Homo sapiens: one gene and its partner. The protein of the gene in region 1 purifies or fractionates together with the protein of each later gene. This does not show direct contact. Each region holds a gene or a part of one and is shown on either strand. Other genes may lie near its edges.

Region 1 (8,319 bases):
AAGGTATAGCATTGGGTGAGAAAGCAAATTTTAGGGTTCCCAGTACCCCTAGTACTGTGCTACTTAGTAACAAAAGAGGTGGTTGGGGTGCGGGGCAGAGAAATAGGGCTAGACAGGGGAAGAAACTGTCAATATTTGAGTTTGAGGAGGCTGACGTTTGCTTTCTGGTGCTTCCTTGTAAACTGAAACTTCAGCTTACAGCTGAGGGCCTAAGTAAAATTTCTTAGTAGTAGGAATTGTTAGCTGTCCTGCTACCTTCTTTCATAAGAAATACCGTAACGTTTTATTTCCATCTAAAAATATATTCAAAAACCAGTCTTTTCGTGTAGAACCAAACACTTTTAAATTAGTATGCCCCCAGTCATTTATAGTTGTGAGGCATACAATTTCACAGCACTTAATTTTTTTAGCAACTGCTTTTTATCTCTTGCTAAAATATTTATCTTAATTTTCTAGAAGCAACTCTATATTTGGCATTATTTTGTTCATTTATATATTTAGTTAAATCATGTCATTAAAGTAAGTACAGCTGGGGACACAACATAACTTACTCTTGGGAAGCATAAAACTCAACTGATGAGAACAGAAGAGTGGGGGTAGCTTTACTATCATTGTTAAACCTGTAATAATGGGGCTTTTAGTCCTTATGTGCTGCAGAGTGAATCAAACAAGGTAGATTAATAGAACAGTTATACAAAGGAATTAAGCATTTCTTTAAGGACTTTCTGATTACTAGGAGAAGAGTGATGGATTTAATTACAGGGGAGGAACTGTTAAATGATGATTGCTACTTGCTGATATTGGAAGAGGTTTGAGAATGACTCGAGTATTAAATTCTGAAAGATTTGACTAGACTCAACGGGAGGCATGCTTTCAGGTGGAGAATGGTGTTTCTTGAAATAACAATATTTTGATGTAGTTGGACTAGAAAATGAGGTCAGAAAAATATAATGAGACCGATCGTGGAAGGCTTTGTTGTTCACACTATGCACTTGATCCAGGAGGCAACTGGAATGAGTTGAAAATGGTGAACAGGGAATTAATATTTTCAGGTTTGTACTTTAAAAGATTTCTGACAGAGTACAGAATCAGTTTATGGAAGGCATGACTGGGACCTACTAGGGGACTGTTCTAGTAATCTAGGAGTTAGATGATAAAGATTCAAATGAAGAGGGAACCAATGATAAAGATTGAATGAAGAGGGAACCGAGGATGACCAGAGAAGGGAAAAAAATGAAATTGAGAATGCAGAATGGAAAGATTAGCTTAGAACAGTAAGAGAGGGATACTTTGATTCTTAAAATTAGAGAATAGTTAAAGAGGGGGGTTGTTATGAGACTTCTCATTCAACAAATATATATCGTTTATCTACTCTTTGCTTAGAGTCTTGGGGAGAATGATGATCTTGGGGAAAAAATATTGTGAGGAGTAAAAATTTATAGGAATCTGTAAAAAAAAAAAATTGAGTTACGGCTGTAGTCAAAATCTGTTGATATTTTCTAATAAGCCCTGAATAGTTCATAATAGCCGCAGAAAAAGAAGCTTGCTTGATCCATGATAGAGGTTGACATGGGATGTGTGTCTTGGAAGAATATTCATGATATTGATGGATTTTGGTAGTGCTCTATGGGTTTTGGCCTGATAGGAGAGGTGGGTTGGGAAAGTGGTAATCAGCTGAGAGAAAAAGGAGTCTTGAGGAGCCTAGAGATAGTTAACTTATTGGTGTTTACCAAGTATATTTCAAGCCAACATCCTAGTTATTTTCTCACCCATAGTCTACTTTAGTCTACTTGGGAGAAAACCTAGGATAATAGGATTTTAAAAGAAGTTATTGTACTTCAAATATGCCACATAAAGTATTATTTTTAAAACAGTTTCTGTCAGAACAACATTTATGCTTTTAAGGATGGGATTAGATCTGATTATATTTTTGTGTTTGTAGTGCTATATAAATTGGCATCAGCTGAGTCTTCTAATGCATTCATAAATTGTGTTCATTTGTTAGAGACAAAAAGAAAGAAGACAAAGAAAAGAAACGTTCTAAAACACCACCAAAAAGTTACAGCACAGCCAGACGTTCTAGAAGTGCAAGCAGGTAAGGTGGCATTGTGAATTCTTGGCAATTATTTTTTTAACTTTGCTTCTAACAGTATCAGTACGCTGTCAGTATGAAGTCTTTTCCAGAACATAAGTATTTCAGTGTTGAAAAAAGTTACATTTTGCTGTTATTTAAAGTTTTTAAAAGGCAATTTGTGAAGAATAATGTAGTTTATTTTTCTTTTTACTTAATATTTTATGGTCTAGAGTATATTTGAAGTAACATGGAATTCAAGAGAGGTGAGTTTTTCTCTTTATAGTTTAAGTTTTAATGGCTAAACCATACTGAATTGTTCCATTAAGTAAGCTTATTATAGTAAGCTATATTTATCATCTGCATGTTAGTACTTGAGAATTTTTCTATCCCTTTTAATGACTGTTGAATTAATGGGAAGCAATGCAGGTTCTGGTTTGTGTCATTCTTAGACTAATTCTATCTTTAAGCTGTCAGTGAAAATTGAAATGTTGCAGACCTTACTGCACAAAAAGCACATTTTCATACTTAATTTGGGATTTATATGATAGTAAGGGCTGGACTTCATTCCATTTTTCAGATCTCATTCACATGTTTTGCTGCAGTGCTTGTTTTATTCATCAACATTACTTAAATTCACTAGGAGAAGGTTCATGCCATATAAAAAAAAATAACTGAAATGTATAAAAGACCTAAATGTAAGAGCCAAAACTATAAAACCTTTAGAAAGAAACAAAAGTGAATCTTTAAGACCATGAGCTTGGTGGTTTCCTAGATATGACTTCAAAAGCATAAGCAACAGAAGAAAAGAAAATTTTGGAATTCACCAAAAGTTAAAACATTTGTATTTCAAAGGATACTATCAAGAAAGTAAAAACCTAGAGTGCTAGTTAGAAAATTCTTTATATATTCTCTATTAAGAACTCTTAGAACTCAGCAATAGACAGGCAACCCAATTTAAAAATGGCAAAGAATCTGTAGCCATTACTCCAAAGGAGATATGCAAATATCTAGTAAGTACATAAAATCTGTTCAACATCATTAGTCACCAAGGAAATACAAACCAGACCACAGTGAGATATGTCACAGTCACTAGGATGGTTATAAATCAAAAAGACAGATGATAGCTGAGCCTGACAGATGATAGTAAGTGTTGATTAGGATGTGGAGAAATTAGAACCCTGTGCATTGCTAGTATGAATATAAACTGGTACAGGTGTTTTAGAAAACAGTCTGGCATTTCCTAAAAATGTTAAACATAGAGGTTTTTGACCCACCAGTTGTACCCCTGGGGGAAAATGAAAACATTTTCACAGAAAAACTTTTATGTGAATGTTTGTGGCATTATTTCATAATAGCCAAAAAGTTAACTATCCATTAACAAATGGATAAACAGAATGGTATATCTATACAATTGAATATTTTTCAGTGATAAATAAGGTTGATACATGCTACAGTATGGATGAAACTTGCAAACATCCATGAAAGGCCGTGTATTGCGTGATTCCTTTTATATGAAATGCCCAGAATAGGCAAATCTATAAAGATACCAAGTAGATTACTGATTGCTGGGGAGATAGGGAGGATTAGAGTGATAACTAAAGGGTAGGGAGTTTTTGGGGTGGTGAAAATTTTCTTAAAAACTAAATTTTTAAGCATGAAAATGAAACCAAATGTAAGTACAGAAGGAAATGCTGAATCAGGCCTGAGGGATAGGTGGCAAAGAGATAGAAAAGATGGAAGGTACTACATATATTTTCTTACCTTAAAAACTGTTGAGGATTTTTTTTTTTACCTGTTGCTTTATATAATGTACTTGTAAGTGCCTTCTCATGCTGTATTATTGGATCACTCTAAATTAAGGCATCTTCTGTGAGTTATTAAATACCCACTGTGTTTGTAGTTGTGCTACAGTCTGTTGAAGGACACGGAAATGTAATATAAAATACTTCTTCCGTCTAGAGAATTTGGAGTTTCAGTTACATAAGACAGTAGCAAAAAGTATAAGGTGCACAGTCGTGACAATGTTTGATAAGTGAATGCTCAGTTATGTGTAACGTTTCCAGGACAAGGGTCACAGAGGGCTGTGTAAGTAGAAAAAAAGCTTCATTTGGAAATTAGACAACTAAGTACAGGGTTTTTTAAGTCTGATAACTTTTGAGAATCAGGAACAGAATTTTTTTTTTTAAGTTACAGTAAAAAGGAGGGGAAGGCTGTATATCAGCTGTATATCTTCAAAGTAATTGGTGAAAGCAGGGTTTTGGGGGACTGCAGGAGGGCGATTTTGCTAGAGTATAAGGTTTCTACCTTTCCACTAACTAGTTCTCTGAATTTCATCTAATGATTTAAAGGTGAATGTGGGGATATTTTATTAGTAACTACCTTCTATATCACATTATTGAATTATTCTGTACTTACTCTGAACACTGAATGTTTGAACCAAAAACTAACTTCTTCAGTAATAGTTTACTTCACACGTCACCCCTCTCGCATTAGTTTTGTTAAATCAGTTTTTTCTCAAGCTTAGTATTTCTAACATTTTGTCATCAATTAAAAGAATTACTAGAAATTAGGAGTTTTCTTGAGGGTAGTAAAGGGAAAGATTCATGGTTTGCAGATGATTATATTACTCATTTAATTGTTTAGCTTATACCAGTATTGTGAAACAATCTTTCATTTTTCTGTTTTTTTGAGACAGGGTCTCTCTCTGTTGCCCAGGCTGGAGTGCAGTGGCCCTATCACAACTCACTCCAGCTTCAACCTCCGCAGGCTCAAGTGATCTTCCTGCCTCTGCCTCCTGAGTAGCTGGGACTACAGGCATGCACCACCACACCTGGCTAATTTTTTTGTATTTTTTGTAGAGACAGAGTTTCACCATGTTGCCCAGGCTGGTCTGGAACTCCTGGGCTCAAGCAATCCCCTCACCTCAGCCTGCCAAAGTGCTGGGATTATAGGCATGAGCCACTACATCTGGCCACATCTTTCATTGTTAGAATCATCTATGATGTGTCTGCATTTTTAAGATCACACTGTATTTTAAAACCTAGTTTGCACATTTGTGATTCTAGAGAGAGACGACGACGAAGAAGCAGGAGTGGCACAAGATCTCCTAAAAAGCCTCGGTCTCCTAAAAGAAAATTGTCCCGCTCACCATCCCCTAGGAGGTAAGAATGTTAATCATTTAAATGTATTTTTTATATTTTTCAGAGGTTTTTCATTTTAAAACTGTCCTGTAGTTTTTCTTTTCAGCAGTTACAGTTCTTAAGAATGTTTTAATGTATTCTCCTTCTGACTTGTGACTTAAACACCATTAAGGACTGAACATTTTAGTCCTATAAACAAGTTAGTTTTGTAGCCTGTGTTACTTCTCCAAGGTTTTGAAGTTGGATCTTTGCTGTACTACTTATATCCTGTGAAATTGAGTCAGGCTCATCATCTAAACAAGTTAAACCTGTTGCTGTACATTTTACTGTCATTCTAGACATAAAAAGGAGAAGAAGAAAGATAAAGACAAAGAAAGAAGTAGGGATGAAAGAGAACGATCAACAAGCAAGAAGAAGAAGAGTAAAGATAAGGAAAAGGACCGGGAAAGAAAATCAGAGAGTGATAAAGATGTAAAAGTATGTTTACAAATTGATTTATTTTTATATTTGGGGTGATGTTGGTACTTTCAGAAGTTATTTTTCTTTGGAGAAGTTTACTTTTATTATTCTCCTTGGCAAAGCAGGTTACACGGGATTATGATGAAGAGGAACAGGGGTATGACAGTGAGAAAGAGAAAAAAGAAGAGAAGAAACCAATAGAAACAGGTTCCCCTAAAACAAAGGAATGTTCTGTGGAAAAGGGAACTGGTGATTCACTAAGAGAATCCAAAGTGAATGGGGATGATCATCATGAAGAAGACATGGATATGAGTGACTGAATATTGCCTCTGAGGGAGTCCAACTGTATACCTGCATCAGTGTCATTCCTTTGTGTGATTTCTTAATGCTGTATTTGTTCATCTCAAACCTAGATGTATACAGCTCTGAGTTATAAATGGTTATAAAGCTCCTGTTACTCATATTAGTTATTTACATCAAAAAGCTTTTAGAAAATGGTACGAGGTAACCAATTCTTGTCATGGTGAAATCTGATTGAGTAACCAAGCAGTTTTACTATTCTGGTGCTGCTTCATAACAAAAATGAAAAGCTGCATGCATCTACAGCAGGCATGGATTGTTTATGTCGTATGATATCCTTTATTAAGTAAGTTCACTTATAGTATTTCTATAATTTGATTCATTGCCGTAATAGAGCCATGTAGGAAATGCACTGATTGCATGTTATTGTGGCAAGAATATCCTAAATGTCATTAAAATCCTCCAACATGATGGATCTACTTATGGTCTTGTTTGTTGACATGACAAATTAACATTCTTATAGTTACATCTGGAAATGAGCATTTGAAATAGATAATCCTTTAAGCCTTGTGGCAAAATTTTTGTGGCTTTTGTTTAACTTTGAAAGGTTATTATGCACTAACCTTTTTTGGTGGCTAATTAGGGTTTAAATACAGAAACAAGATTTCAAATAAAACTGTCTTTGGCAGTGAGTAAATAGCATATTTTGAAGTAGAGTTGTATACTTTTTCATAAGATGTTTGGGAATTTTTTTCCTGAAGTAATAATTTATTCCACATCTACATCAGTGAAAGCTATCTACCTATCCTGAGTCTATCTTAAAGGAAAAAAAGAAAAAAACCTTATCTCTTGCCCTTATTTTGAATTTTCCACTCTTTCATTAATTTGTTTTAAGCTCCGTGTTGGAAAAAAGGGGTAGTGCATTTTAAATTGACCTTCATACGCTTTTAAAATAAGACAAATCTACTTGATAATGTACCTTTATTTGATCTCAAGTTGTATAAAACCAATAAATTTGTGTTACTGCAGTAGTAATCTTATGCACACGGTGATTTCATGTTATATATGCAAAGTAGGCAACTGTTTTCTTAGTTACAGAAGTTTCAAGCTTCACTTTTGTGCAGTAGAAACAAAAGTAGGCTACAGTCTGTGCCATGTTGATGTACAGTTTCTGAAATTGTTTTACAAGACTTTGATAATAAAACCCTTAAACTTATGTTCATGTTCCTGTAAAACCGTATTTGTATTTATTTACGCTACTGAATGTATGACATTTACCTCATTCATTTTACAAATTCTTTCCCTTTCTGTCCACATATTTCAGTATAGTAAAAAGAGGAAGTCTATCACTGTAGTGATAATTGCCATCAAAATTGTCAAAAATGATTTAATTTCTATCCAAAATAGTCCTTTTCTTAGCTTAGTATCATTTTATTGCTTATTTTTTGTGTGGGAATGGGGTTGGATAAAGCAATGAACTTTAGTATAAACAAATCCCACCTATATCTAGCAAATTTATATTTTCGGTGAAATACAGATATTTGCCTTTCTGGAGTAGTATAGAAGCTGTCAATATGTATCTACTGTACAGTACTAAATAGTATTCATTTATGAAATGAGTAGTGTTTGGGTGGCTGGGGTTAAGGGAAAATGAGACTTGGAATTGTAGCTTTTATCCAAGTTTTGAGTATAAATAGGGTTTTGTTTTGTTTTTTTTAACCTAAAAACTGAAATGCCATATAGAAAAACAGCATTGTTTTTACAGTTTGTAGTAAGTAACTTTTTAAAGATTTTATCAAAAAGAATTGTCTATAGTGAGTAAAAGAAGTTCTAATAATGGTCCTAATCACTGCATTTTTAAAAAACAAAGTTCAACACAAATGACATTTGTTTTAAACTTTAGTAGATAAAAGGTGAACCATGTGACATGGGCATTTTTGTAAGTCAAAAACAAATTTCACATATGGTAAACCTAATATTCACAGTGTGTTCCCTCACTTGTAATCTCTGAATACAAATATACTAGCTTTTCTAAAGGGAATCATTTTTTTAAAAGTAGTGCCACTGACAAGATGCTACAGTGAAGATTATCCATTCTTAGGATATTTATTTTCAGTGAACATTTTCTGCACAAAGGTAGTGTTGCACTGGGACACAAGCCTTTTAACAGATAACCAGTTGAAATCAAACACTGCCTCCACACCGAGTTCTGTTGTGTATTTGATAGTAAATTGATTTAAAAATAAAAGTGGTTTTTGTTAGAAAAATGTTTTGTCCTTATTTATTTGCTTAAATCCTTTAGGAGTGAACGAGAGGTGGTAGCTATACAATGAGCTTTTTTAAATG
Region 2 (7,659 bases), on another chromosome or scaffold:
ATTTTTCTGTATAGATAGTAGTAGATAGCGCTGCTTTTTTGTTTTATTTGGTTTTTGAGATGGGGTCTCTTTCACCCAGGTGGAGGGCAGTGCTGCGATCTTGGCTCACTGCAACTTCCGCATTTCAGGCTTAAGCAATCCTCCCACCCCAGCCTCCCAAGTAGCTGGGACCACAGGTGCACGCCACCATGCCTGGCTATTTTTTTGTATTTTTGGTAGAGATGGGGTTTCACCATGTTGCCCAGGCGGGTCTGGAACTCAGGCTCAAAGGATCCACCTGCCTCGTCCTCCCAAAGTGCTGGGATTACAGGTATGAGCCACTGTGCCCAGCCTTGTTTTTGTTTTTAAAAAGATGAATTCTTCCTGTGTTGCTCAGGCTGGAGTGCAGTGGCTATTCACAGGCGTAATCCCACTATTGATCAGTTTGGGAGTTTTGCCCTTCTCTGTTGGCAACCTGGTGGTTCTCTCTCATCCCAGGAGGTCACCATATTAATGCTGAATGGACTTAGCATGAACACCTGATCAGTAGCGTGCTGCAGCCCAGAACTCCAGGGCTCAAGTGATCCTCCTGCGTAGCTGTGACTATAGGCAGGCACAGGAGTGTTGCTCTTTAATCATTGAAAATGGTAAAACAACAAAAGTGGCAATGTCAGAAAAAGATCAACTCTTTTTTGGAGATTTCCAAACAATTGAGTATTTTCATACTTCTGAAAAGCTTTGCTGTAAAAGTAGTTTTTCTGTTAAGCATTTCCCATTCTTCTTTGGGCATAAAACACTTTTTTTTTTCTAGGAATAATTCCTGCAGACCTGACACATAATTGGAAGTAGATATTGAATGAATGAGTGAGTTGTATGTGAATATTTGCTCAGAGGAATCTCAGTTCATTATCATTTCAGAAATTTGGCACGTAGTGTACTGATGGAGCTAGTCTAAAATAATCTATCCTGGGAGAAATAATTTTGTTTCTATCTGGATAAGTCTACAATAGAGGAATGCTTATTAGCAGTGTTTTGCTGTATTTTGCATACTTGCAGTATTCTTAAGAGTGCAGAAAAAAATAGTTTGAAAGATTCAAAGAGAAAAAAGTGAAAAAAGAAAAGCTGAGTGCATGCATATGTTGAGTACTAGAGATATGTCTTCAGGGTTTCTTTTTGGACCAGATTTCTTGAGATAAAATTTGCATACAATAAAATGCATCTGTTTTAATTTCAATGAGTTTAGACAAATGCATATACTTGTGTGACCACCGCTACACTAGAGGTAGGGAACCCTTCTATCATAGGTTTCTGTTATTTTATTTAATTTTTGGGGGGCCTCACTCTGTCGCCCAGGCTTGAGTGCAGTGGTGTGAGCTCGGCTCATTGCAACCTCCACCTCCCGGGCTCAAGCGATTCTCCCATCTCAGCCTCCTGAGTATCTGGGACCACAGGTGCATGCTACCACACCTGGCTAATTTTTTGTATTTTTGGTAGAGATGGGGTTTCACCATGTCGCCCAGGCTGGTCTTGAACTCCTGAGCTCAAGTGATCTGCATGCCTTGGCCTCCCAAAACGCCGGGATTACAGGTATGAGCCACTGCACCTGGCCCAGGTTCCTGTTTTTATTATCGTGGGCTATAGAGTTTCTTTTTTTTGAGATGGAGTCTGGCTCTGTCGCCCAGGCTGGAGTGCAGTGGCACAATCTCTGCTCACTGCAAGCTCCGCCTCCCGGGTTCACGCCATTCTCCTGCCTCAGCCTCCCGAGTAGCTGGGACTACAGGCGCCTGCCACTATGCCCGGCTAAATTTTTGTATTTTTAGTAGAGACGAGATTTCACTGTGTTAGCCAGGATGGTCTCGATCTCCTGACTTCGTGATCCACCCACCTCGGCCTCCCAAAGTGCTGGGATTACAGGCTTGAGCCACCGCGCCCGGCCCGGAGTTTCATACTTAGCAGGAAAAGGTGCTTTGAACCTTCTAAAATGTGAGGTACTTTCAATATTTTAAAAAATGCTATGGAAATGATTTCAGTGCCATAAGATAACTCTGCATTTCTCTCTTTTAAATCCCACATATTATACAATCCCTCAGCAAATCCTATTGGCTGCCTTCAAAATATATCCAGGATCCAACAACTTGATAGCACTTTCACCACTACCACCTGTTCCAGGCCACCATCTCTCCAGGCTACCATCTCTTATATGGATTATTGTACCAGTCTCTTGCTTGTATCCTGTTCCCTTCCAGGCTTAACACAGTGGCCAGTGATACTGTTAAAATGTGACAAGTCAGAAACTCTTCAAATGATTTTCACCTCATTCAGAGTTAAAACTAAAATGTTTATTTACATTGTGTTACATAGCCCTACACTCTACTCATAATACTCAGTATTTATTTCTGATTTTCTTCATTTATTCTGCTCCAGTCATACTGTTGGCCTTGCTATTCCTCCCTCAAATACACCATTCCTGCTTCAGCCTCTTTGTATTTGTCTTTTCCTTTGCTTGGAAGTCTCTTTCCCCCAGATATGAATAGGGCTTCCTGCCTCTGCCTCTTTTAAATCTTTGTTCTAATCTTCACCTTCTTGGTGAGGCCTAATCGCTGTATTTAAAATAAACTACTCCATAGCTCTCTTCCCTAATTTATTTTTCTACAAAGTACATACCATCTTTCAATGTATTATAATTTATTTTGTTTATCATCTATAGGTAACAGATAAGCTTTGCTTATGATTATGAAAGTTAATTCTCAATCAGTTTCACATGGCAAAACACATAAACCTGTGTTGAAATAAGTAGTTGGTAATCTTTTAGGCTGCTTAAAGTGGACATTAGTATTTATCAAAGATGAGAAATGTTTTCTGATTTTCCATGAGAGACCAATCTTTTTTATTTTTGTTTTGAAATGGAGTCTCGCTCTGTCACCCAGGTTGGAGTGCAGTGGCGCGGTCCCAGCTCACTGCAACCTCTGCCTCCCAGGTTTAAGCAATTCTCCTGCCTCAGTCTCCCGAGTAGCTGGGACTACGGGCGCCTACCACCATTCCTGGCTAATTTTTGTATTTTTAATAGAGACGGGCTTTCACCATGTTGGCCAGTCTGGCCTCGAACTCCTGACCTTGTGATCCGCCCGCCTCAGCCTCCCAAAGTGCTGGGATTACAGATGTGAGCCACCGCGCCCAGGAGAGGCCAGTTATCTTAAAGGAATATCCATAAAAATTAGCTGTTAACTGGTATTTTTGCCTTCACCTTTGAAGTCCAGCCTATCAACAAGCAAGTTTTGGCAGCTCCAAATAAAGGGGAATATGTTATGGAAAAATTTGAAGTGAATGGAATGGGTATATTGGCATAAACGAAAATTAAATATATCTGGTTAACTCTGCAGAATGAATTACACATTTAAAAACCATAAAATATAACTTAAATACCAAGAATATAGAGTTTTACTTTTTTTTTTTTTTTAGACGGAGTCTTACTCTGTCGTTCAGGTTGGAGTGCAGTGGCGCGACCTCGGCTCACTGCAACATCTGCCTCCCAGGTTCAAGCAATTCTCCTGCCTCACCTTCCAGAGTAGCTGGGATTACAGGTGCGCACCACCACACCTGGCTAATTTTGTTTGTTTGTTTGTTTGTTTTCTTTTGAGACAGAGTCTCACTGTGTCACCCAGGCTAGAGTGCAGTGGCGCGATCTCGGCTCACTGCAACCTCGGCCTCCCGAGTTCAAGTGATCTCCTGCCTTTGCCTCTTGAGTAGCTGGGATTACAGGCACCCGCCACCACACCCAGCTAGTTTTTGTATTTTAGTAGAGACGGGGTTTCACCATGTTGGCCGGGCTGGTCTCCAACTCCTGACCTCAAGTGATCGGTCTGCCTCGGCCTCCCAAAGTGCTGGGATTACAGGGGTGAGCCACTGTGCCCAGCTAATTTTTTTTTTTTTTGAAACTGAGTCTTGCTCTGTCGCCAAGGTGGAGTGCAGTGGCGCAGTCTTGGCTCACTGCAACCCCTGCCACCCAGGTTCAAGCAATTCCCCTGCCTCAGCCTCCTGAGTAGCTGGGACTACAGGCGCACACTACCATGCCTGGATAACTTTTTGTATTAGATACGGGGTTTCGCCGTGTTGGCCAGGATGGTCTTGATCTCCTGACCTTGTGATCTGCCTGCCTTGGCCTCCCAAAGTGCTGGGATTACAGGCATGAGCCACCTCACCCAGCCCAGTGTTTATATTTTTAGTGGAGACAGGGGTTTCACCATTTTGGCCAGGCTGGTCTCGAACTCCTGACCTCCAGTGATCTGCCCGCCTTGGCCTCCCAAAGTGCTGGGATTACAGGTGTGAGCCACCGCCCCTGACCGAGAGTTTTAGTTTTTAAGCATTATTTATATCTAATATTATTGGGGGAAAAGTGGTTTTAAAAATGAGTTCATGGCCCAGTCTTGTAACCATTGTGAGGCTAGGCACTGGGCCATTGCTAGAATATAGTATGCGGCATGAGATAGCATAATAAATTTGTTTATTGAAGTCCTCAGAGTTTGTTTACTGATTTATTCATTAATCAGTTTATTCAACAGGTATGAAAACCAACTATCCTAAGAAAGCACTGAGATAGGCTATTATAATGATAATAGAAGAGCTTCTGTAAGTAGGACAGTAGCCCTTTCTGTTTTAAAAAGAGATACCACCCCCAGTTTTTGGTTTTGGTCAAAAAGTTTTACAGAAAGTTTATTTTAAAACTCAACACATTTACAGTCTTGCAATCTTGTGTTTTTCATTGTTAATATGTACTGATAACCTACCTACTGTTTAAAACATTTCTAATACCTCATTTGCCAAGTATATTAAATCCTCCTAAGGGCTGGGCGCAGTGGCTTATACCTGTAATCCCAGCACTTTGGGAGGCCGAGGCCGACGGATCACTTGAGGCCAGGAGTTTGAGACCAGCCTGGCCATACATGGTGAAACCCCGTCTCTACTAAAAATACAAAAATTAGCTGAGCTTGGTCGTGCGTGCCTTGTGGTGTGCACCTGTAATCCTAGCTACTTGGGAGGCTGAGGCAGGAGAATCGCTTGAACCCGACAGGCGGAGGTTTCAGTGAGCTGAGATGGTGCCTCTGCACTCCTGGGTGACAGAGCAAGACTCCATCTCAAAAAAAAAAAAAAAAAAATGCATCCTAGGGATTCCTTTACCTATAAAGTTTTCTAAATATTTTAAGTATACTGTGTTTTCTGAAATTGAAGTTTAGTTTTATTGAATATGGTATTATCCCAATTTAAGTCAAAGGAATTCTGAGGAAGTAGAGCTGTGAGCATGTAGGTCATGCTTTTCTGTTTTAAAGAAATGTCTAGTAAACAGGTAAACGCATACTCAACCTCATTAGTCATGAGGGAAATGTAAATTGAAATAAGAGTATATTTTACTTATGAAATTGTGAGAATTTTGACACTGATCTATTCTACCAATGATGAGGATATGAGGAAAGGGCATACCCATATTCTGGTGGTGGGAATATACATTTATATGCTAGTTTTCAGGGATGATTTTGGAGGTAAAGTTTGGATACATATAATTTTTTTTTTTTTTTTTTTTGATGTGGATTCTTGCTCTGTCGCCCAGGCTGACGTGCAATGGCACCGTCTCGGCTCACTGCAACCTCCGCCTCCCAGGTTCAAGCGATTCTCCTGCCTCAGCCTCCTGAGTAGCTGGGACTACAGGCACCTGCCATCACACCCAGCTAATCAGATACATATAGTTCTAACCTGTATTAGAGAATTACCTGTACAGATGCATACAGTTATATGTCTATTATCTCCAGGAATGTTCAACATTATTTGTGAGAGCTGAAAGTGGAGCCAACTGTTAATGTTGGTTAAATAAATATGTCCGTATTATAATAATTTACTGCATTATTATTATTTTATTATTTTTGAGGCAGTCTTGCTCTGTCACCAGGCTGGAGTGCAGTGGCTTGATCTCGGGTCACTGCAGCCTCCACCTCCCGGGTTCAAGCAATTCTCCTGCCTTAGCCTCCCAAGAGCTGGGACTACAGGCATGTGCCACCACGCCTGGATAATTTTTGTATTTTTTTCATGTTTTATTGCCTGTATTTTTTTTTTTTTTTTTGAAACAGAGTCTCGCTCTGTTGCCCAGGCTGGAGTGCAGTGGCGCGATCTTGGCTCACTGCAAGCTCCGCCTCCCAGGTTCACGCCATTCTCCTGCCTCAGCCTCCCTAGTAGCTGGGACTACAGGCGCCTGCCACCGCACCCAGCTAATTTTTTTTTTTTTTGTATTTTTAGTAGAGACGGGGTTTCACCGTGGTCTCGATGTCCTGACCTCGTGATCCACCCGCTTCGGCCTCCCAAAGTGCTGGGATTACAGGTGTGAGCCACCGCGCCCGGCCTGTATTTTGTTTTTATATGTATCATTAATTCTTAAAAATTAAGATTTTGAATCTCTTTGGATATTTATTAGGCTTCAAAGATCTTGATGGAGCAGTCTGAGTTGACTGCCAGTTTCTTAAGTTGGCGGTAAGGCTGGGGTGCAGCGCACACTGGTTTAGCGTGAGCAGTGATCACTAAGCACATGAGCTACGACCACCCCAACTTTACCTCGTTCACAGACAGAACTGGAAGGTTGGTCCTAGATGGCTGCTTGGTCCTGGATGCTTTAGTGGTCTCTTGATATGTGGAAAGCCTTGTTTTGGAACAAATGTTTCCATTGATACAGATGAGAAATGCCTCTTTAATATTTTTATAAACCATTTAGACCCCAATAGATTTGGTTTGTGGGTCACTCTCTTGTGAGTACCAAAGGATTTCATGGTTGGAAGGTGTGCCTTTTCGTCTTGGCAGTGAGCAGCATTTAATGGAGAGACAATGCTTGTATTTGATTTTTTTTTTTTTTTTTTGGTTCATTTACAGGATCTGAGACTTATTCAGACTACCAGCTGTATTATCAGGAAGGAACAAATCCAAGTTTTGACGTATTGTCAGTGTGCCGCATGTTGTATTTTCAAATTCCTTTAGTGGTTTTAACATTAGATGACCAATTCTTTGGCACTGATGTGCTTTTGCCAGTGTACGGTAGATCTGACCATGGCTCTGAGAAGTCTGGCTGGCATTACCACATCCCAAGCTCTCTGTCCAAAGAGAAGGAAGCGCCAGGGACGCACGCTTCCTTGGCTGGACTGCAGGAAAAGAGCTGCAGCACCAGCCTCTCATTACTGCAGCCACCCCCTCTCCTAATTTTTGTATTTTTAGTAGAGATGGGGTTTCACCATGCTGGCCAGGATGGTCTCAATCTCTTGACCTTGTGATCCACCCACCTCGGCCTCCCAAAGTGCTGGGATTATGAGCGTGAGCCACCACGCCCAGCCAATTTACTGCATTATAAAGGTGGAATAAGACTTTATTTTTATTTTTTATTTTTTTAGACAGACTCTGTCACCCAGGCTGGAGTGTAGTGGCACGATCTCAGCTCAGTGCAAACTCCGCACCCTGGGTTCAAGTGATTCTCTTGCCTCAGCCTCCCGAGTAGCTGGGATTACAGACATGTGCTACCACACTTGGCTGATTTATGTATTTTTAGTAGAGATGGGGTTTCACCATGTTGGCCAGGCTGGTCTAGAACTCTTGACCTCACGTGAGCCCCCTGCTTTGGCCTCCCAAAGTGTTGGGATTGCAGACGTGAGCCAC

Evidence for each region.
Region 2: the proteins of SRSF11 (region 1) and RBM25 purify together in Homo sapiens (affinity purification with mass spectrometry; 2 studies listed by BioGRID and IntAct, with this or other methods). This does not show direct contact.

The regions. Positions count from the first base shown.
Region 1 is NC_000001.11:70,244,813-70,253,131, forward strand, and holds the end of SRSF11 (serine/arginine-rich splicing factor 11), read left to right. Parts: coding exon 1-3; intron 4-2,005; coding exon 2,006-2,095; intron 2,096-2,304; coding exon of another isoform or gene 2,305-2,320; exon of another isoform or gene 2,321-2,337; intron 2,338-5,118; coding exon of another isoform or gene 5,119-5,139; coding exon 5,140-5,235; intron 5,236-5,552; coding exon 5,553-5,691; intron 5,692-5,795; coding exon 5,796-5,993; 3' UTR 5,994-8,240; downstream 8,241-8,319. UniProt on the Homo sapiens protein: May function in pre-mRNA splicing.
Region 2 is NC_000014.9:73,061,534-73,069,192, forward strand, and holds part of RBM25 (RNA-binding protein 25), read left to right. Parts: intron 1-3,438; exon of another isoform or gene 3,439-3,560; intron 3,561-7,659. UniProt on the Homo sapiens protein: RNA-binding protein that acts as a regulator of alternative pre-mRNA splicing. Involved in apoptotic cell death through the regulation of the apoptotic factor BCL2L1 isoform expression.